Linked DNA regions of Homo sapiens. Each later gene encodes a partner of the first gene's protein in a complex. Each region holds a gene or a part of one and is shown in the gene's direction. Other genes may lie near its edges. The genes, in order: MYO9B and RHOA.

Region 1 (9,656 bases):
AATCCCAGCTACTTGGGAGGCTGAGACAGGAGAATCGCTTGAACCTGGGAGGCAGAGGTTGCAGTGAGCCGAGATCAAGTCACTGCACTCCAGCCTGGATGACAGAGATGAGACTCCGTCTCAAAAAAAAAAAAAAAGTAGAGATTATGGATAGAAGGAAGATAGATGCCGACGATAGATGGATGGAAGGAAGATAGGTAGGTAGAGACAATGAATGGAGGGATGGAAGATAGGTAGAGATGATGGATGGCTGGGTGGGTGGATGGATGGATGGATGGACAGACAGAAGGATGGGTGGATGGCTGGAAGATAGAGATGGAGAGATGGAAGGAACATAGAGTTGATGGATGGAGGGATGGATAGATGATAGGTAGATTATGGATGGGAGGAAGATAGAGATGATGGAGGGACGGATGGGTAGAAGATAGGTAGAGCCGGGTTCGGGGGCTCACACCTATAATCCCAACACTTTGAGAGGCTGAGGCGGGTGGATCACCTGAGGTCAGGAGTTTGAGACCATCCTGGCCAACGTGGCGAAACCCCGTCTCTACTAAAAATACCAAAAATTAGCTGGATGTGTTGGCGCATGCCTCTAATCCCAGCTACTCGGGAGGCTGAGGCAGGAGAATCACTTGAACCTGGGAGGCAGAGGTTGCAGTGAGCCGAGATCACACCATTGCACTCCAGCCTGGGCAACAAGAGCAAAACTCCGTCTAAAAAAAAAAAAAAGATAGATAGAGATGACAGATGAAGAGATGGATGGAAGGCAGATAAAGAGGATGGATGGGTGGAAGATAGAGACAATGAGTCAATGAGTAGAAGGATGGATGGATGGATAGATAGATGATAGATAGATAGATAGATAGATAGATAGATAGATAGATAGATACATAGATAGATAGATGGGCAGGCAGGCAGGGTCTCTTGGGCTAAGGCAAGGTTTCCTACCCTCCACACTCAACATCTGGGGCTGGCTCACTCTCTGGGGTGGAGACCATTCTCTGTAGGGTATTGAGTAGCATCCCTGCCCTCCACTCACCAGAGGCCAGAAGTACCCACCCACTCCTTTCCCCCCACCCAAGTGGTGACAACCAAAACTGTCTCTAGACATTGCCAAGTGTCCCCTGGCAGGGGCAGAACTGCCCAAGTGAGAACCCAAGAACCACTAAGACAAGAAAATGCCACTGACTCACTCTAGTCAGTAAAAGCCATGTTTCTGTGATCTCGCAGGGAGAGGCGCACCTCCTTCTCCACGAGCGACGTCTCCAAGCTCCTCCCGTCCCTGGCCAAGGCTCAGGTAACAACAACACGGCAAAACCCCGTCTCCACTAAAAATACAAAAATCAGCCAGGCGTGGTGGCGCTTGCCTGTAACCCCAGCTACTCAGGAGGCTGAGGCGAGAGAATCGCTTGAACGCAGTGGCAGGGTAGAGGTTGTAGTGAGCCTCGCGAGACCAGGCCACTGCACTCCAGCCTGGGCAACTAGAGTGAGACTCCGTTTCAAAAAAAAAAAAAGCAGGAAGTGAGGTCGGTGGATGGAGTGTAAATGCCTGCAGGGGCTTCCCCATCTAGCACAGGACTGCCAGCCTTTCCTTAGCAGCCCCCCACTGCACCGTCTTGCAGCCTGCAGCAGAAACCACGGACGGAGAGCGAAGTGCGAAAAAGCCAGCTGTCCAGAAGAAGAAGCCAGGCGACGCATCCTCCCTCCCAGACGCAGGGCTGTCCCCGGGCTCTCAGGTCGACTCTAAGTAAGTATTGGGCTTGGGGGAAACTCAGGCCACCAGAGGATGCCCGGGGTCCCTGCCAGGGCCTCGCAGCAGTGTGGCCTCCTAAACCAATCACGTTTACAAAGCACGTTCGCAAAGGCATTTGCTCAGTAGAAACTGAATGGGGAGGCCAGGCAGTGGCTCACGCCTATAATCCCAGCACTTTGGGATGCCGAGACGGGTGGATCACTTGAGGTCAGGAGTTGGAGACCAACCAGGCCAACATGGTGAAACCCCATCTCTACTAAAAATACAAAAATTAGTTGGGCATGATGGCAGGCACCTATAATCCCAGCCACTCGGGAGGCTGAGGCAGGAGAATCGCTTGAACTCGGGAGGTGGAGGTTGCAGTGAGCTGAGATCATGCCACTGCACTCCAGCCTGGGTGACAGAGGGAGACTCCGTCTCAAAAAAAAAAAAAAAAAAAAAAAGCCTCTAGGGCAGGATCCTTCCTGCCTCTTCTGGCTTTTGGGGGCTCCAGGTGTTCCTTGGCTTGTGGCTCCATCACTCTAATCTCTGTCTCTATCGGCACTTGGCCTTCCCCTCAGTGTCTGTGTCTTCTGTCTTCTGTCCCTTAAAAGGACACGTGGCTGAATGGATGCAGTAGGTCACGCCTGTAATCTCAACACTTTGGGAGGCCAAGGTGGGATGATCACTTGAAGCCAGGAGTTCAAGATCAGCCTGGGCAGCGTGGCAAAATCTTGTCTCTGCAAAAAAATTTCAAAAATTAGCCAGGCAGGGCGGTGCATGCCTGTAGTCCCAGCTACTCAGGAGGCTGAAACAGGAGGATCCCTTGAGGCCAAGAGATCAAGCCTGCAGTGAACTGTGATCATACCACTGCACTCCAGCCTGGGCAAGAGAATGACACTCTGTCTCAAAAAAACTTTTTTTTTAACTTAAAAAGATAATGAGCTAGGCGCATGGCTTGTACCTATAATCCCAACAACTCAGGAGGCTGAGGTGAGAGGATCATGCTCGTGAGGCCAGGAGTTTGAGGCTGTAGCGAGCTATGATCACACCACTGCACTCCAGACTGAGTCACACCCCAACTGGAACAAAAAGAAAAGAAAATGGAGTCCCCCTGTGGCTTCTGTTTGGTATCCTTCTTTCTTCACATAACTCCCCTGCCAGTACAAAGAAAGGGCTATTGCTCTTTATAAGATAATCCTGTGTTGTTTTTTTGTTTGTTTTTTTTTTGAGACAGAATCTTGCTCTGTTGCCCAGTCTGGCAGTCTGGAGTGCAATGGCTCAATCTCCGCTCACTGCAGCCTCCACCTCTCAGGCTCAAGCGATTCTCCTGCCTCAGCCTCCCAAGTAGCTGGGAGTACAGGTGTGCACCACCATGCCCAGCTAATTTTTTTTTCTTTTTTTTTCTTTTTTTTTTTTTTTGTATTTTTGGTACAGAAGGGGTTTCGCTATGTTGCCCAGCCTGGTCTCAAACTCCTGGGCTCAGCTGATCCACCCACCTCAGCCTGCCAAAGTGCTGAGATTACATAGGCGTGAGCCACCATACCCAGCCAGATCCATTTTTGTTTTTGTTTTTTGTTTTTTTTTTTGAGACAGAGTCTCACTCTGTCACCCAGGCTGGAGTGCAATGGTGCGATCTCAGCTCACTGCAACCTGCAACCTCCACCTCCTGGGTTCAAGCAATTCTCCTGCCTCAACCTCCCAAGTAGCTGGGACTACAGGAACCCACCATCACGCCCTGCTATTTTTTTGTATTTGTAATAGAGACAGGGTTTTGCCATGTTGGCCAGGCTGGTCTCAAACTCCTGACCTCAGATGATCCACCCGCCTGGATCTCCCAAAGTGCTGGGATTACAGGCATAAGCCACCATGCCAGGCCAGATCCTTTTTTGAGTCAGGCATTGATAGAGCATTTGCCATGTGTCCAGTCACAGGGAGGCTGGGCCTCACGTCCATTTTCATTTCAGACTTAAAAGAAGCCACGTACTTTCTCCTGCAGATCCACGTTTAAGAGGCTTTTTCTGCATAAAACCAAGGATAAAAAATACAGCCTGGAGGGCGCAGAGGAGCTGGAGAATGCAGTGTCCGGGCACGTGGTGCTGGAAGCCACCACCATGAAGAAGGGCCTGGAAGGTTGGTAGCCTGCAGCCTCAGGGACAGACAGTAGAGCCACCAGTGCCCCTGGGGACATTCACTGTCCCCAAACGGGGCCTTGAGTTGGCTGTGGGCCAAGCCCTAGGCACAGAGCCAGGGGTTTCTGGCCCTGGATAAAGGCGTGCCATAGGAGGTCCCCTGCATCCTCCCCCTGAACCCACCCTCACCGGCTGCTTCCTGTCCCCCCTCAGCCCCCTCCGGACAGCAGCATCGCCACGCTGCAGGTGAGAAGCGCACCAAGGAACCAGGAGGCAAAGGGAAGAAGAACCGAAATGTCAAGATTGGGAAGATCACAGTGTCAGAGAAGTGGCGGGAATCGGTGTTCCGCCAGATCACCAACGCCAATGAGCTCAAGTACCTGGACGAGTTCCTGCTCAACAAGGTGGGATCACTAGGCGAGGGCCAGGGGCATGAGGCCCGGTCCCCAGGGGAACCATCACAGCCAGGCATTGTTTTCTGAAACACACAACACAGGGTTTAGCAGGTCAAGAATACAAAGTCCAGGCTCAGGCCGGGGACAGTGGTTCATGTTTGTCATCCCAGCACTCTGGGAGGCTGAGACAGGAGAATCACTTGGGCCCAGCAGTTCAAAACCAGCCTGGGCAACAGAGAGACCCCATCTCTACAAAAGGTTTAAATATTAGCTGGAGTGGTGGTGCACACCTGTAGTCCCAGCTCCTGGGGGCTGAGGCAGGAAGATCGCTTGAGCCCAAGAGGTCGAGGCACCACAAGCCACGATCGCAGCACTGCACTCCAGCCTGGGTGACAGAGCAAGACCCTGGCTCAAAAAAAATAATAATGCATATTTGGTCTCAAAGCAAAGATTGATGAAGCACTGTGTGCAACAGAAGTGGAGGCGAACAAGCTGTGGCTGCCCTCAGGAGGGTTATACCCCGTGGGGGTGGGGGGTGGGCAATCCTGCAGCAGATAGAGCTACATTTGGGAGCTGCACAGCGGGCACAGGGGGCCGATGGGGACACAGAAGGATCAGGAAACCCTGCTAGGAGTAGAGGCATCTTGAAATTACCAGGCCATTCCAGGCATCCCCATCCTAAGGTATGGCTGGGTGTTGAGCCCCTGTGTGGGGCAGCAGGAAGGGCCTGAACTGACCTGTAGCTCTCATCTAGGGGGGATTCTGTCCGCCAGGGAACACTGGCAATGTCTGGGGACATTGGGGTTATCACAGCCTCAGGGGAGGGCGCTGTTGGCATCTGGTGGGTGGAGGCCAGGGATGCTGCTTAACCTGCTGTGGTACACAGGGCAGGCCCCAATGTGGAGAGTAGTCCTGCCCTCAATGTCAGTGGCTTTAACTCTGGGTTGACAAGATGAGAGACCAGGCTTGGCCAGAGGGACTGGATTTTATCCCGAGAGCCTAGGGGATGACTTAAGAGAGGATAGAAGTGACCCCTTGGGCACCTCCTCGGGTACGCAGGTCCCCAGGCCTGAGGCACGCAGGGTCAGTTCCTCTCCCCTTCCAGATAAATGACCTCCGTTCCCAGAAGACGCCCATTGAGAGCTTGTTTATCGAAGCCACCGAGAAGTTCAGGAGCAACATCAAAACGATGTACTCTGTCCCGGTATGTGGCGGCCCGGCCTTCAGCCTTTCCCATACCCTGCTCAGACCCGTCATTCCCATCCGCCCCTTGCCCAGGCCTGCAGGGTGACGCCTAGCATTCCTACAGAACGGGAAGATCCACGTGGGCTACAAGGATCTGATGGAGAACTACCAGATCGTCGTCAGCAACCTGGCCACTGAGCGTGGCCAGAAGGACACCAACCTGGTCCTCAACCTCTTCCAGTCACTGCTAGATGAGTTCACCCGTGGCTACACCAAGAACGACTTCGAGCCAGTGAAGGTGGGCAGCCCAGCATGCCACGCCCACCTGTGACATGCCACGCCTACCCATGCCTCGCCATCCTTAGCCACGCCCACCCATGCCTCACCATGCTTATGCCACACCCACCCATGCCCTGCCCATACCACAGCCACTGTGCCATGACTTGATCCACTTATGCCATGCTTACCTGTGCCTCACCATGATCACTTATGCCACACCCACCTGACATGCCACACCCACCCATGCCATGCCACGCCTATGACATGCAACATGCTATGCCTACCCATCCCTTGCCATGATTACATGCCATGCCCACCTATACCATGCCGTGCCCATTTGTGCCACACCTACCTCCTGGTGGGGAGCCCTGCACCCTCCCCAACAGAGCCTCACTTCTGGGTCTGGGGTGTCTGAATGGGGGCGTTAGGGACAATGATGCCACTCCAGGTGAGGGAGGGTTCAGGGTACCCACACGCCTGAGTTATGGGGTGCCAGGGGTGGGTTGGGGCTCTTCCCAGGGGGGCCCCCGCCAACCTCCTCCTTGTGTTCCTCACAGCAGAGCAAAGCTCAGAAGAAGAAGCGGAAGCAGGAGCGTGCTGTGAGTAGGCTGCACATAGATGAGAGTCCGAGCAGGCGAACATTGGCAGGAGCATGCACGTGTGTGTCAGTGTCAATGTGCGCATGGGCCCGTCTGCACGCGTATGTGTGCGTGGACACGTGTGAGTGTGTTTTTCCCCCGGCATATACGGAGCCGTAGTCTTGAATAAGTCACCCCTGAGATCCCATGGGTCGTCATCCACCAGTGGCTGGGGAGGGCTGCCTTCCCCTTTCCCTGCCCAGCGCCTTCCTCTGGCCTCACAGGTCCAGGAGCACAACGGGCACGTGTTCGCCAGCTACCAGGTTAGCATCCCGCAGTCGTGCGAGCAGTGCCTCTCCTATATCTGGCTCATGGACAAGGCCCTGCTCTGCAGCGGTGAGTGGCTCCCCCACCAGGCCCCAAAACCCTCCATGTCCCCCACCACCCCTCACTGCTCAAGAGGTCTTCAGGGCCAGGCGGGGTGGCTCACACCTGTAATCCCAGCACTTTGGGAGGCCGAGGCAGGTGGATAACGAGGTCAGGAGTTTGAGACCAGCCTGGCCAAGATGGTGAAACCTCATCACTACTAAAAATACAAAAATTATCTGGGCACAGTAGTGGGCACCTGTAATCCCAGCTACTCGGGAGGCTGAGGCAGGAGAATCACTTGAACCTGGGAGGCGAAGGTTGCAGTGAGTCGAGATCGCGCCACTGCACCCTAACCTGGGCAACAGAGCAAGACTCTGTCTCAAAAAAAAAAAAAAAAAGGTCTTCACCCCAGCCCAGCCACCAGGTCAGATCTTTCTGGACCGTTGTCCCAGCCATATCCCACCCCCTCAAACCGTCCACCATCACCGGAGGAGCAGAGCCCAATTCTCAGCTGGCCCCAAGGCCCCCAGTAGCCAGCACCCACCCACATCTGCAGCCTCCTCTCCTCGTGGGCCCTGCCTCTCTGTCTCTGTACACGCTGCTCCACCGCCTGAACCATCGGCCCCTCCTTCCCCAGGCTCCTCACGGTCCCTCCCCTGTAGGCCAGACTCAGCCCCAGGGGACCCTAAGAGACAGGGCCCAGGAATGACCCAGCTGATCCATGCTCACACAGCTTTGATATGGCCAAGTCAGTACCCAAGCCCAGGCAGCCTCCAGAGGCCCAGCAGGGTCAAGAGGGCCTCTCCTACATGTGTTTTTCTGCCAGAACCATTTGGGCCAGGGTCTTTTCAGCCCAGAAGGCAGCCCCACCACCCCACATCTGTCCAACAGTCAGTTGTCATGGTCCTGAGATAAGGATGCGGGACCCAGGCCCGTCCCCTCACCTGATTCCATCCTTGCCAGGTGCCAGACACTCTCTTCTTTAGCGTAACCAGTGTACCCTCTGCAAGGCGTCAGCTGGGTGGCCTGGGATTCAGTGTGGTTGGAAGAAGGAAAAGCAGCATTGTCTTTGCCCCGTGACATCTTCGTCCCAAGTCCCCAAGGCCACCTCCTGGCAGGACCTTTAGACCTTTAGTTCTGCCAGTAGGTGGCCTTGGGGACTTGGGGCAAGGATGTCACAGGTCCCCACAAACACCTGCTCATGGTTCCGCTAGCCAGGCTGGGTCTGAGGCCATGAATGGCCACCTTGGAGCTATGAAGTTTGTCCACACAGCCTCCTCTCTCAGGAGTCAGGGCACAGGTTCCTGCAGTGTGGGTTTAGAAGTTGGCAGGCCAGGCACAGTGGCTCACACCTGTAATCCCAGCACTTTGGGAGGCTGGGGCGGGAGGGTCGCTTGAACTCAGGAGTTCTAAATCAACCTGGGCAACATGGCAAGACCCCATCTATACAAAAAAAAATACAGAAATTAGCCAGGCACGGTGGTGCACGCCTGTAGTGCCAGCTACTTGGGAGGATCACCTGGGCCTGGGAGGTCAAGGCTCCAGTGAGCTATGATAGTGCCACTGCACTCTAGCCTGGGTGACAGAGTGAGACCCTGTCTCAAAAAGAAAAAGAGAAACCAAAAAGAAGGCAATCCAGGCCAGGTGCAGTGGCTTACGCCTCTAATCCCAACACTTTGGGAGGCCGAGGTGGGCAGATCACCTGAGGTCGGTAGTTCGAGACCAGCCTGACCAGCATGGAGAAACCCTGTCGCTACTAAAAATACAAAATTAGCCAGGCGTGGTGGCGCACACCTGTAATCCCAGCTACTCGGGAGGCCGAGGCAGGAGAATCACTTGAACCCGGGAGGCGGAGGTTGCAGTGAGCCGAGATCACGCCATTGCGCTCTAGCCTGAGAACAAGAGTGAGACTCCATCTCAAAAAAAAAAAAAAAAGAAGGCAATTGGCGGCCCCCGGCCAGCTGGGTGGGTGGCTGCAGGAATCTGGGGTCCCCAGCACCCTCTGTGACTCCCACCCTGTGGACCTCCTAGTGTGCAAGATGACCTGCCACAAGAAGTGCGTGCACAAGATTCAGAGCCACTGCTCCTACACCTACGGGAGGAAGGTGAGTGTACGAGGCCTGGAACTTTCTACAATGACACTCCACTCACGGCCAGGTGCACCAGGAGGTGGTGCTTGATGTGAGGGCCAAGCGAAGCATTGAGCAGCCAGTAGGGGGCGGCTGTGGCCTCTGGTTCTGCAGAACACACCATTGTCCCCGGTTCTGTACAAACTCCTTGAGGCCCTCAGGCAGGGCCCAGGCCTGTGTGTGTGTCTCAGCTCCCCCAGCCCTGCTCATCCTTGCTCCTGAGAGAGTCCTGAGCCATGCAGAGGGAGGCCCCCCAACTCTGTGCATAAGGTTGGGGTCCTGGGTGCTGGGGGTGCAGCAAGAGTCAGGGTCTACTTCTGTGAGGTGGCTGTGGGGGCTAGGTTATAGCTCTCTCCCCACGAAGGACCACCCATGCCTTGGGTGGCCTACAAAGGAAGCCCCTGCCCAGTGGCTGCCATGCTGGCCTTGACTTCTGCAGCCCCACACCCCCAACAACCACGCAGAAGGAGACAGGGAGGGACAGAACAGCAGAGGAAGCCCTGAGGGCCTTGTGCGGGACCAGGAGGCAGAGGCCCCCAGAGACAGCTGGAGAGGAAGACAGCCAGGCCCAGACCTGACCCCCAACCCCGGCACTGCAGGGCGAGCCAGGCGTTGAGCCTGGCCACTTCGGCGTGTGCGTAGACAGCCTGACCAGCGACAAGGCCTCGGTGCCCATCGTGCTGGAGAAGCTCCTGGAACACGTGGAGATGCACGGCCTGTACACCGAGGGCCTCTACCGCAAGTCGGGTGCTGCCAACCGCACTCGGGAGCTCCGGCAGGCGCTGCAGACAGGTGGGCGCTGTGGGCAGGTGGGTGCAGTGCCAGGCCCCAGGCACAGCCGTCCTGCCAGTGCGCCG
Region 2 (9,656 bases), on another chromosome or scaffold:
TTGTTGCCTAAACTGGAGTGCAGTGGCACGATCTCAGCTCACTGCAACTTCCTCCTCCCGGGTTCAAGTGATTCTCCTGCCTCAGCCTCCTGAGTAGCTGAGATTACAGGTGCGGACCACCATGCCCGGCTAATTTTTCTATTTTTAGTAGAGATGGGGTTTCACCATGTTGGTCAGGCTGGTCTCGAACTCCTGACATCGTGATCCACAGGCCTCGGCCTCCCAAAGTGCTGGGATTACAGGCGTGAGCCACCATGCCAATCCTTTTTTTTTTTTGACAGAGTCTCACTGTGTTGCCCAGGCTGGAGTGCAGTGGCGCGTTCTCAGCTCACTGCAACCTCCGCCTGCCTAATTCAAGTGATTCTCATGCCTCAGCATCCTGAGTAGCCTTTCAGGGGTTACAGGTGCCTGCCACCAACCCAGCTAACTTTTTTTTTTTTTTTGAGACGGGGTTTTTCTCTTGTTTCCCAGGCTGGAATGCAATGGCGAGATATCGGCTTACTGCAGCCTCTGCCTCCTGAGTTCAGGAGATTCTCCTGCCTCAGCCTCTCGAGTAGCCGGGATTATGGGTACATGCCACTACGTCCAACTTATTTTTATATTTTTTGTAGAGACGGGGTTTCACAATGTTGGCCAGGCTGGTCTTGAACTCTGGACCTCAAGTGATCCGCCTACCTCAGCCTCCCAAAGTGCTGGCATTACAGGCATGAGCCATTACTCCTAGCCTTGACTGCATGCTCTTGTTTGAAGATATGCATTGAGCACATTTCCCTATCATCGATATGCTTCTTATTGTGCTTTCATGATTAGTAGTATCTTCAATTTACTCCCTTTTTGCAAAAAAAAAAAAAGTTACTAGATTTTGTAGATTTGGATAAAATTCTATAATATCTGTATCTATATATATACACACACACGTATTCACTGCTGTATGTAATATTGTCCTGAGAATTCACAAATGAGTAATGGCAGCACTGTCAGCCCTCTGAGTTTTTTTGTTTTGTTTTCATTGTTTATTTTTGTCGTTGTTTGCCCTCTGAGTTTTCTTCTGGTACCCCTGTGGATTGTCTTATCCATTCTGGTTGGGGAACATACCCTTTAGACAATATAGTTTTGATAATGAGTATTTATTATTATTATTATTATTATTATTATTATTATTATTATTATTATTTTTGAGACAAGAGTCTCTGTCACCCAGGCTGGAGTGCAGTGGCATGATCTTGGCTCACTGCAACCTCCACCTCCCAGGTTCAAGCGATTCTCTTGCCTCACCCCACCACGCCTGGGTAATTTTAATATTTTTAATAGAGATGGGGTTTCATATGTTGGCCAGGCTGGTCTCAAACTCCTGACCTCGTGATCTGCCCGCCTCGGCCTCCCAGTGTGCTGGGATTACAGGCGTGAATCACCATGCCCAGCTGAGTGTATATAATTTAGGATTAGTTTGACTATAGGTAACAGAGACTTGAAAAATACCACCTTAAATAAGACAGTCATTTATTTCTCATTCATATGGAAGAAACATGGAAGGTAGGCAGTCTTGGGGCTGAGATGGTGGCTCCCAAGATCACCTGAGATCCAGGCTCCTTTTTACCTTTTGGTTCTTCCAGCCCCACGGTATGGCATTCATTCTCACATACCAGGATGGCTGCTTAGAAACCAGCCCTTACTTTAGATTTAAGCAGCAGGAAAGGAGGAGGATAATAAAGACTTCCCTTTAAGAAAGACTTTCTGGAAGTCCCACAACATACTGCTGATTCTCACATCTCATGGTACATGGCCATGTCTCCAAGGGAAGCTAGGAAGTGTAGTCTACAACAAAGTACATAGCTAAAAATCGAAGTATGGTCTAGGAGGGAAGGGCGGGAATTGGGATGGTTGACCATCACTGTCTGCCAGATGGAAGGAATCTGCAGATTTCTCTCTTTTTTCCCCCCACTGGGGGCGAGAGTGGTGGTAACAGCTTTATTGAAATATAATCCACATATCTTACAATTCACCTTTTTAAAGTGTGAATTATATATACTGTGGGCTGGGTGCGGTGGCTCACGCCTGTAATCCCAACACACTGGGAGAGACAGGCAGGAGGATCGCTTGACCTCAGGAGTTTGAGAGCAGCTGGGGCAACGTGGTGAAACCCGGTCACTACTAAAAATACAAAAAATTAGCCGGGTGTGGTGGCATGCACCTTTAGTTCCAGCTACTTGGGAGACTGAGATTGGAGGTTCACTTGAGCCTGGGGAGGCTAAGGTTGCAGTGAGTGGAGATCGCACCACTATACTCCAGCCTGGGCAACAGAGTGAGACCCTGTCTCAAAATAAATAAAATGTGTGAATTATATATACTATAATCAATAGTTTATAGTATATTCATAGAGTTGTGCAGCCATCACCACAATAATTTTGGAAAAATCTTTTTACCTGAGAAACTCCAGTATTCCATTAGTCATTTTCCATTTCTCTCCACCCCCAAGTCCCTGCCCTAGGCAACTACCAGTCTATTTTCTCTTTCTGAATTTGTTTATTCTGGACAATTTTATATAAATGGAATCATGCATGTTGGTTTTTGTGACTGGGTTCTTTCACTTATATAACATTTCCAAGATCTATCCATACTATAGCATATATCAGTACTTTATCCTTTATCGCTGAATAATATTCCATTCCATTGTATGGATATATTATATTCATCAGTTGTTGGATATTTGGGTTCTTTACATTTTTTGACAATATATTATGAATAATCCTGCTATGAATATTCATGTAGAGGTACAAGTTGTTATGTGGACATATGTTTTTGTTTCTCTTAGATATATACCTAGGAATAGAATTGCAGGGTCATACCTACTCACATCCTTTGCTCATTTTTTAATTGGATTAGATTATTTGTCTTTTTATTATTGAATTGTAAGAGTTCTTTATTTTTTAATTTTTTCTATATACTGTATTTAGGCCTGGGGAGGTGGCTTATGCTTGTAATCCCAGCACTTTGGGAGGCTGAATCGGGAGGATTGCATGAGCCCAGGAGTTTGAGACCAGCCTGGGTAATATAGTGAAACGCTATCTGTATAAAAATTAGTCAGCTGTGGTGGCAGGAGCCTGGTAGTCCCAGCTACTGGAGAGGTTGAGGTGGGAGGATCGCTTGAGTTGAGCCTGGGAGGCAGAGGCTGCAGTGAGCCAATATTGCACCACTGCATTCCAGCCTTGGTGACAGAATGAGACCCTTTCTGAAAATAACTACATAATAGAGAAACACATAGATAGGTTAGATAGGTACATAGATTGGATAGATGCGTAGATAGATGGGCAGTGGCTCACGCCTGTAATCCCTCAGCACTGTGGGAGGCCGAGGCGAGTAGATCACTTGAGCTCAGGAGTTGGAGACCAGCCTGGGAAACATGGCAAAACCCTGTCTCTGCCAAAAATACAAAAATTAGCTGGGCGTGGTGGCGCATGCCTGTGGTCCCAGCTGCTGGGGAATTTGAAGTGGGAGGATCACTTGAGCCTCGGAGGTGGAGATTGCATTGAGCCAAGATCACGCCACTGCATTCCAGCCTGGGTGACAGAGTGAGACCTCATCTCAAAAAAAAAAAAAAAAAAAAAAAAGATAGATGGATAGATAAATAGCGTACTTCATGTCAGAAGGAGTTCTCTCTTTTTTTTTTTTTTTTTTTTTAAGACACAGTTTCACTCTGTTGCCCAGGCTGGAGTGCTCTGTTGCCCAGGCTGGAGTGCAGTGGTACAATCTGGGCTCACTGCAACTTCTGCCTCCTGGGTTCAAGCGATTCTCCTGCCTCAGTCTCCCGAGTAACTGGGATTACAGGTGCCCACCACCACACCCGGCTAAGTTTTGAATTTTTTGTAGAAACGGGGTTTTGCTGGGTTGGTCAGGCTGGTCTCGAACTCCTGACCTCAAGTGTTCTGCTTGCCTCAGCCTCCCAAAGTGCTGGGATTACAGGTGTGAGCTACCGTGCCCAGCCCAAAAAGAGTTCTTTATGATTTCAACCTTGCAAGAGATCCTGAGCCAGACCACCAACCTAAGCTGCTTTTTTGTAGTTGAGTCATAAGAGTTTGAGACAAGGTTCCACTCTGTCACCCAGGCTGGAGTGCAGTGATGCAATCATAGCTCACCACATCCTCCACCTCCTGGGCTCAAGCAATCCTCCCACCTCAGCCTCCTTGGTAGCTGGGACTACAGGTGCATGCTACCACAACTGGCTGATTTTTTTTTTTTTCTTTTCCTTCTTTTTTTAGAGACAGTGTCTCACTGGGGTTCCCCAGGCTGGAGTGTAGTGATGCAATCTCAGCTCACTGCAGCTTCCACCTCCAGGGCTCAGGGGATTATCCCACCTGAGCCTCCCAAGTAACTGTGATTAGCATGCACCACCGCTCCTGGCTAATTTTTTGTATTTTTAGTAGAGACAGGGTTTCACTATGTTTCCCAGGCTCGTCTTGAACTCCTGGACTCTCAAGCAGTCCACCTGTTTCGGCCTCCCAGATTGCTGGGATTATAGGCGTGAGCCACTGCGCCCGGCCCTTTTCTTTCTCCCCTCCCCTCTCATGCTTCCGTCCGTCCTTCCTTTCTCAGTGTCTCACTATGTTGTCAGGGCTGGTCTCTTAACTCCTGGGCCTGAGCATTCCTCCTGCTTCAGTCTCCCAAAGTGTTGGGATTACAGACATGAACCACTGTGCTCGGCCTCAATTGATTTTTCTTTTTTGAGACGGAGTTTCGCTCTTGTTGCCCAGGCTGGAGTGCAATGGCATGATCTCGGCTCACCACAACCTCTGCCTCCCGGGTTCAAGCGATTCTCCTGCCTCTTGCTCCTGTGTAGCTAGGATTATAGGCATGTGCCACCACGCCTGGCTAATTTTGTATTTTTGGTAGAGATGGGGTTTCTCCATGTTGGCCAGGCTGGTCTCAAACTCCTGACCTCAGGTGATCTGCCTGCCTCGGCCTCCCAAAATGCTGGGATTATAGGCGTGAGCCACCGCGCCCAGCCAAGAATGCTGTTTCTTTACAAACAAATCTAGATTGGTAAAAGAAGGAATATCCAAACTTAGAAAGATTGCAGAATGTCTACCCAAACAACCTGCCGATGACTTTTTTGGTTCTTTCCTCCCTTGGGTACTCCCTTTCATCAGTCCTTTCATTGTTTTTACCCTGCTTGACAAATTGTTTCCTTTTTTTTTTTTTTTTTTTTTGTGAGATGGAGTCTTACTCTGTCCCCCAGGCTGGTGTGCAGTGGCCCGATCTTGGCTCACTGCAAGCTCTGTCTCCTGGGTTCACGCCATTCTCCTGCCTCAGCCTCCCAAGTAGCTGGGACTACAGGTGCCTGCCACCATGCCCGGCTAGTTATTTGTATTTTTAGTAGAGATGGGGTTTCTCCGTGTTAGCCAGGATGGTCTCGATCTCCTGACCTCGTGATCCACCCGCCTCGGCCTCCCAAAGTGCTGGGATTATAGGCGTGAGCCACTGCGCCTGGCTCAATTGATTTTTTAATGTTAATATTGTATCCTGCAACCTTACTGAACTTGTTTATTCTAAAAGTTTTCTTTAGGATTTCCCACATTACAAAATCATCTCATGTGTGAATTGAGATAGTTTTACTTCTTCCTTTCCAATTTGGATGTCTTTTATTTCATTTTCTTACCTTATTGCCCTGGCTAGGACCTCCAGTATCCTGCTGGATAGAAGTAGCAAGAACAGGCCAGGCGTGGTGGCTCACGCCTGTAATCCCAGCACTTTGGGAGGCTGAGGCAGGTGGATCACCTGAGGTCAGGAGTTCAAGACCAGCCTGGCCAACAAGGTGAAACCCCATCTCTATCAAAAATTAGCTGGATGTGGTGGTACGTGCCTGTAATCCCAGCTACTTGGGAGTCTGAGGCAGGAGAATTGCTTGAACCCGGGAGGCTGGAGGTTGCAGTGAACTGAGATTGGGCCAGTGCACTCCAGCCTGGGCGACAGAGTGAGACTCCGTCTCAAAAAAAAAAAGAAGTGGCAAGAACAGACATTCTTGTCTTGTTCCTGATCTTAGGGGGCAGACCTTTTTTTCAGTCTTTTACCATTAAGTATAATGTTAGTTACGAGTTTTTAATGTATAACCTTTTGGTGCCAGGTGGATCGGCGTACTAGAAGTTTGAATTTGAGTATGCTAATAGAGGTTTATGCCCCATGGTTACCAAAGCATGTGTCATCCTGTAAGCTACCTATGACTTCTTGTGCATTGCAGGTAATATCTGTGTTTTGTGTTTCAGCAATGGCTGCCATCCGGAAGAAACTGGTGATTGTTGGTGATGGAGCCTGTGGAAAGACATGCTTGCTCATAGTCTTCAGCAAGGACCAGTTCCCAGAGGTGTATGTGCCCACAGTGTTTGAGAACTATGTGGCAGATATCGAGGTGGATGGAAAGCAGGTGAGTATACTTTTCATAACAACTGATGCCATTTTCCATGTTAGAATATTTATGGAGCATGTAGAGAATTAGAGCTTTTTGCCTCTTCAGTATACCATATAACAAAAATGTTGGAAAGAAGAATCCATTCTCATCCTGCCATCTTAGTCCAAGTTTGTTCTTTTTTTTTTTTTGGAGACGGAGTCTCATTCTGTTGCCCAGGCTAGAGTGCAGTGGCTCGGTCTTGGCTCACTGCAACCTCTGCCTCCCAGGTTCAAGTGATTCTCCTGCCTCAGCCTCCCAAATAGCAGGGATTACAGGCATGTTGCCACCATGCTGAGCTCATTTTTCGTTTAGTAGAGATGGGGTTTCACCAGGCTGGTCTCAAACTTCTGACCTCGGGTGATCCACCCACCTCAGCCTCCCAAAGTGCTGGGATTACAGGAGTGAGCCACTGTGCCCAGCCTTCCCCCAGGTTTAAAGGATTCTCCTGCCTCAGCCTCCCCAGTAGCTGGGATTACGGGAATATGCCACCACACCTGGCTGATTTTTGTATTTTTAGTAGAAATGGGGTTTCACTACGTTGGCCAGGCTGGTCATGAACTCCTGACCGCAGGTGATTGGCTGTTTTTTCATTTTTAACTGCTACTCATCCAGACTTTGTTTACATTCATATGTATTTGACATGGTGTCCTTAGCATATGTGTTTTTTTTTTGTTTTGTTTTGTTGTTTGAGACAGAGTCTCGCTCTGTCGCCCAGGCTGGAGTGCAGTGGTACAATCTCAGCTCGCTGCAACCTCCACCTCCCGGGTTCAAGCAATTCTTTTGCCTCAGCCTCCAGAGTAGAGTAGCTGGGATTACAGGCGCACGCCGCCATGCCTGGCTAATACTTGTATTTTGTAAAGATGCAATTTTGCCATGTTGGCCAGGCTGGTCTCAAGCTCCTGACCTCAGATGATCCACCTGCCTCAGCCTCCCAAAGTGCTGGGATTACAGGCGTGAGCCACCTTGCCCAGCCATATGTGCTCTTTTCAAGTTTACGTATATTTGAAGTTTAGTTCATTGCCATATAGATAATGCTCAGATGAACTTCTTTGTATGCTTGGACTTTGACAAAAATTCTGTCAAAGTATTTAATCAGATGTCCCAGTATTAGATTACTAGTTCAAGCTCTGCCTCCTGGGTTCACGCTGTTCTCCTGCCTCATCCTCCCAAGTAGCTGGGACTACAGGTGTCCACCACCAGACTGGCTAATTTTTTGTATTTTTAGTAGAGACGGGGTTTCACCGTGTTAGCCAGGATGGTCTCGATCTCCTGATCTTGTGATCTGCCCGTCTCGGCCTCCCAAAGTGCTGGGATTACAGGCATGAGCCACTGTGCCCGGCCAAAAGATTTTTTTTTACTTTAACATAAAATAGCCTGCCACAGTTGTTTTATTTTATTGTCATTGATGGTGAGAACAGTGCTTCCCCATTTCTGTCCTAAAAGCCCTCTGGCAAGACTGGAACAAAGCTCTTGTGAAATTGGAGGGTTTTTTTGGGTTTTAATTTTGGTTTTGGTTTGTTTTTGTTTTTTTTTTTAATCTTCTGCTTCCTTTTGTTGTCTAAGTAATGCTTTGCTTGGCCTCTCATACTTTTTTTTTTTTCTCTTAAATAAAGAGACAGGGATTGTACTTTGTCTCCCAGGCCTGCAGTGCTGTGACATGATCATGCAGCCTTGAACTCTTGGGCTCAAGTGATCCTTCCACCTCAGCCTCCCAAATAGCTGGCACTGTAGGTATGTGCCACCACACCTGGGTAATTTATGTTTTTAGAGATGAGGTCTTGTGTTGGTCCAGCTGGTTTCAAACAACTGGGCTCAAGTTCTTCCATCTCAGCCCCAAGTGGCTGGGCTTACAGGCGCAAGCCAGCGTGCCCAGCTCTCCTATACATCTTTTGAAGTGGGTCAGCTGAAAGGAAAAAACCCCTAAAACTAGAATGAGGTGCTCTTCTCCAACATTCTCATTTTTCTTGAGCATTCAGTTATATGTCTCATATGCTGCTAACACTTGATATATTAGCTTCCATTCATCCCCTTTCTCCTTTCTTACTTTGTTTTTGTTTGTTTGTCTAGAGACAGAGTCTCCCTCTATCACCCAGGTTGGAGTGCAATGGCATGATCTTGGTTTACAACAACCTCCGCCTCCTGAGTTCAAGCAATTCTCCTATCTCAGCCTCCCGAGGAGCTGGGATTACAGGTGCCTGCCACCAAGCCCAGCTAATCTTTGTATTTTTAGTAGAGACGAGGTTTCGCCATGTTGGCCAGGCTGGTCTCGAACTTTTGACGTCAGGTGATCCGCCCGCCTTGGCCTCCCAAAGTGCTGGGATTACATGCATGAGCCACCGTGCCTGGCCACTTCTACTTGTCCACATTACTTATTTCTTTCTGTCCTAGGGCCACCTAGCCTCCTTTTGTGGCACTGTGTGAGGAATGTGGGTTAGATCAGCTGCTCAGAACTCCAGGGTCCCTCATTGTAGGGCTTCCTGATAGTTGTTTGACCATCAGTAAGCTCCTGACCTTTGAGCCTTCCTCATTTGTAAAACGGTTTTTATAGGTGACATCAAGGTTCTGTGAAGTAACGGAAAATGTTTGGCAGCACCAAAGCGCTTTCTAAGAGATGAATACTGCCATGTTCAAAACCCTCTTTCATAGTTTGTAGTCCTTTTTTTTTTTTTTTTTTTTGAGACAGAGTCTCGCTCTGTCGCCCAGGCTGGAGTGCAGTGGCGTGATCTCTGCTAACTGCAACCTCTGCCTCCTGGGTTCACGCCATTCTCCTGCCTCATCCTCCGGAGTAGCCGGGACTACAGGCGCCCGCCACCACGCCTGGCTAGTTTTTTGTATTTTTAGTAGAGACAGGGTTTCACCGTGTTAGCCAGGATGGTCTGGATCTCCTGACCTCGTGATCTGCCTGCCTCCCAAAGTGCTGGGATTACAGGCGTGAGCCACTGCGCCCGTCCTATAGTTTGTGCTCTTTTTTATTCAAATACAGAGTGAGCCACGATGATTGCTCTTATGCTAATAGGAACTCTAAGATACTTTCTGGCCCAAGTATAGATGGAAAAAATACAACAAATACCAGCCTAACAGAATTTTGGGATGTACCCTGAAGGTGGCAAACCAATACAGAGGGTGTTAATTCAGCCTCAGCCAAGCATGGATGCTTGGACATAGGTGTTTTTGTGGTCCTGATAGGAAAACTGGTTTTATATGGACACAGGGCCCA

The links.
Region 2: the proteins of MYO9B (region 1) and RHOA are in contact, whole or in part, in a crystal structure (PDB 5HPY), measured with the Homo sapiens proteins. Residues at the interface, in NP_004136.2 of Homo sapiens: Glu1731, Gly1732, Arg1735, Lys1736, Ser1737, Gly1738, Ala1739, Ala1740, Arg1744, Lys1772, Gln1773, Arg1776, Arg1840, Met1841, Ala1845, Ile1848, Ile1849, Pro1852, Cys1853, Arg1856, Pro1863, Leu1864, Ser1866, Met1867, Val1870, Thr1874; in NP_001300870.1 of Homo sapiens: Asp13, Gly14, Ala15, Glu32, Tyr34, Val35, Pro36, Val38, Phe39, Gln63, Glu64, Asp65, Tyr66, Arg68, Leu69, Leu72, Asp90, Glu93, Asn94, Glu97.

Annotation. Positions count from the first base shown.
Region 1 is NC_000019.10:17,196,562-17,206,217, forward strand, and holds part of MYO9B (unconventional myosin-IXb), read left to right. Parts: intron 1-1,230; coding exon 1,231-1,297; intron 1,298-1,622; coding exon 1,623-1,747; intron 1,748-3,731; coding exon 3,732-3,865; intron 3,866-4,077; coding exon 4,078-4,268; intron 4,269-5,364; coding exon 5,365-5,463; intron 5,464-5,568; coding exon 5,569-5,742; intron 5,743-6,280; coding exon 6,281-6,322; intron 6,323-6,585; coding exon 6,586-6,697; intron 6,698-8,701; coding exon 8,702-8,775; intron 8,776-9,398; coding exon 9,399-9,591; intron 9,592-9,656. UniProt on the Homo sapiens protein: Myosins are actin-based motor molecules with ATPase activity. Unconventional myosins serve in intracellular movements. Binds actin with high affinity both in the absence and presence of ATP and its mechanochemical activity is inhibited by calcium ions.
Region 2 is NC_000003.12:49,372,193-49,381,848, reverse strand, and holds part of RHOA (transforming protein RhoA isoform 1 precursor), read left to right. Parts: intron 1-6,257; 5' UTR 6,258-6,259; coding exon 6,260-6,415; intron 6,416-9,656. UniProt on the Homo sapiens protein: Small GTPase which cycles between an active GTP-bound and an inactive GDP-bound state.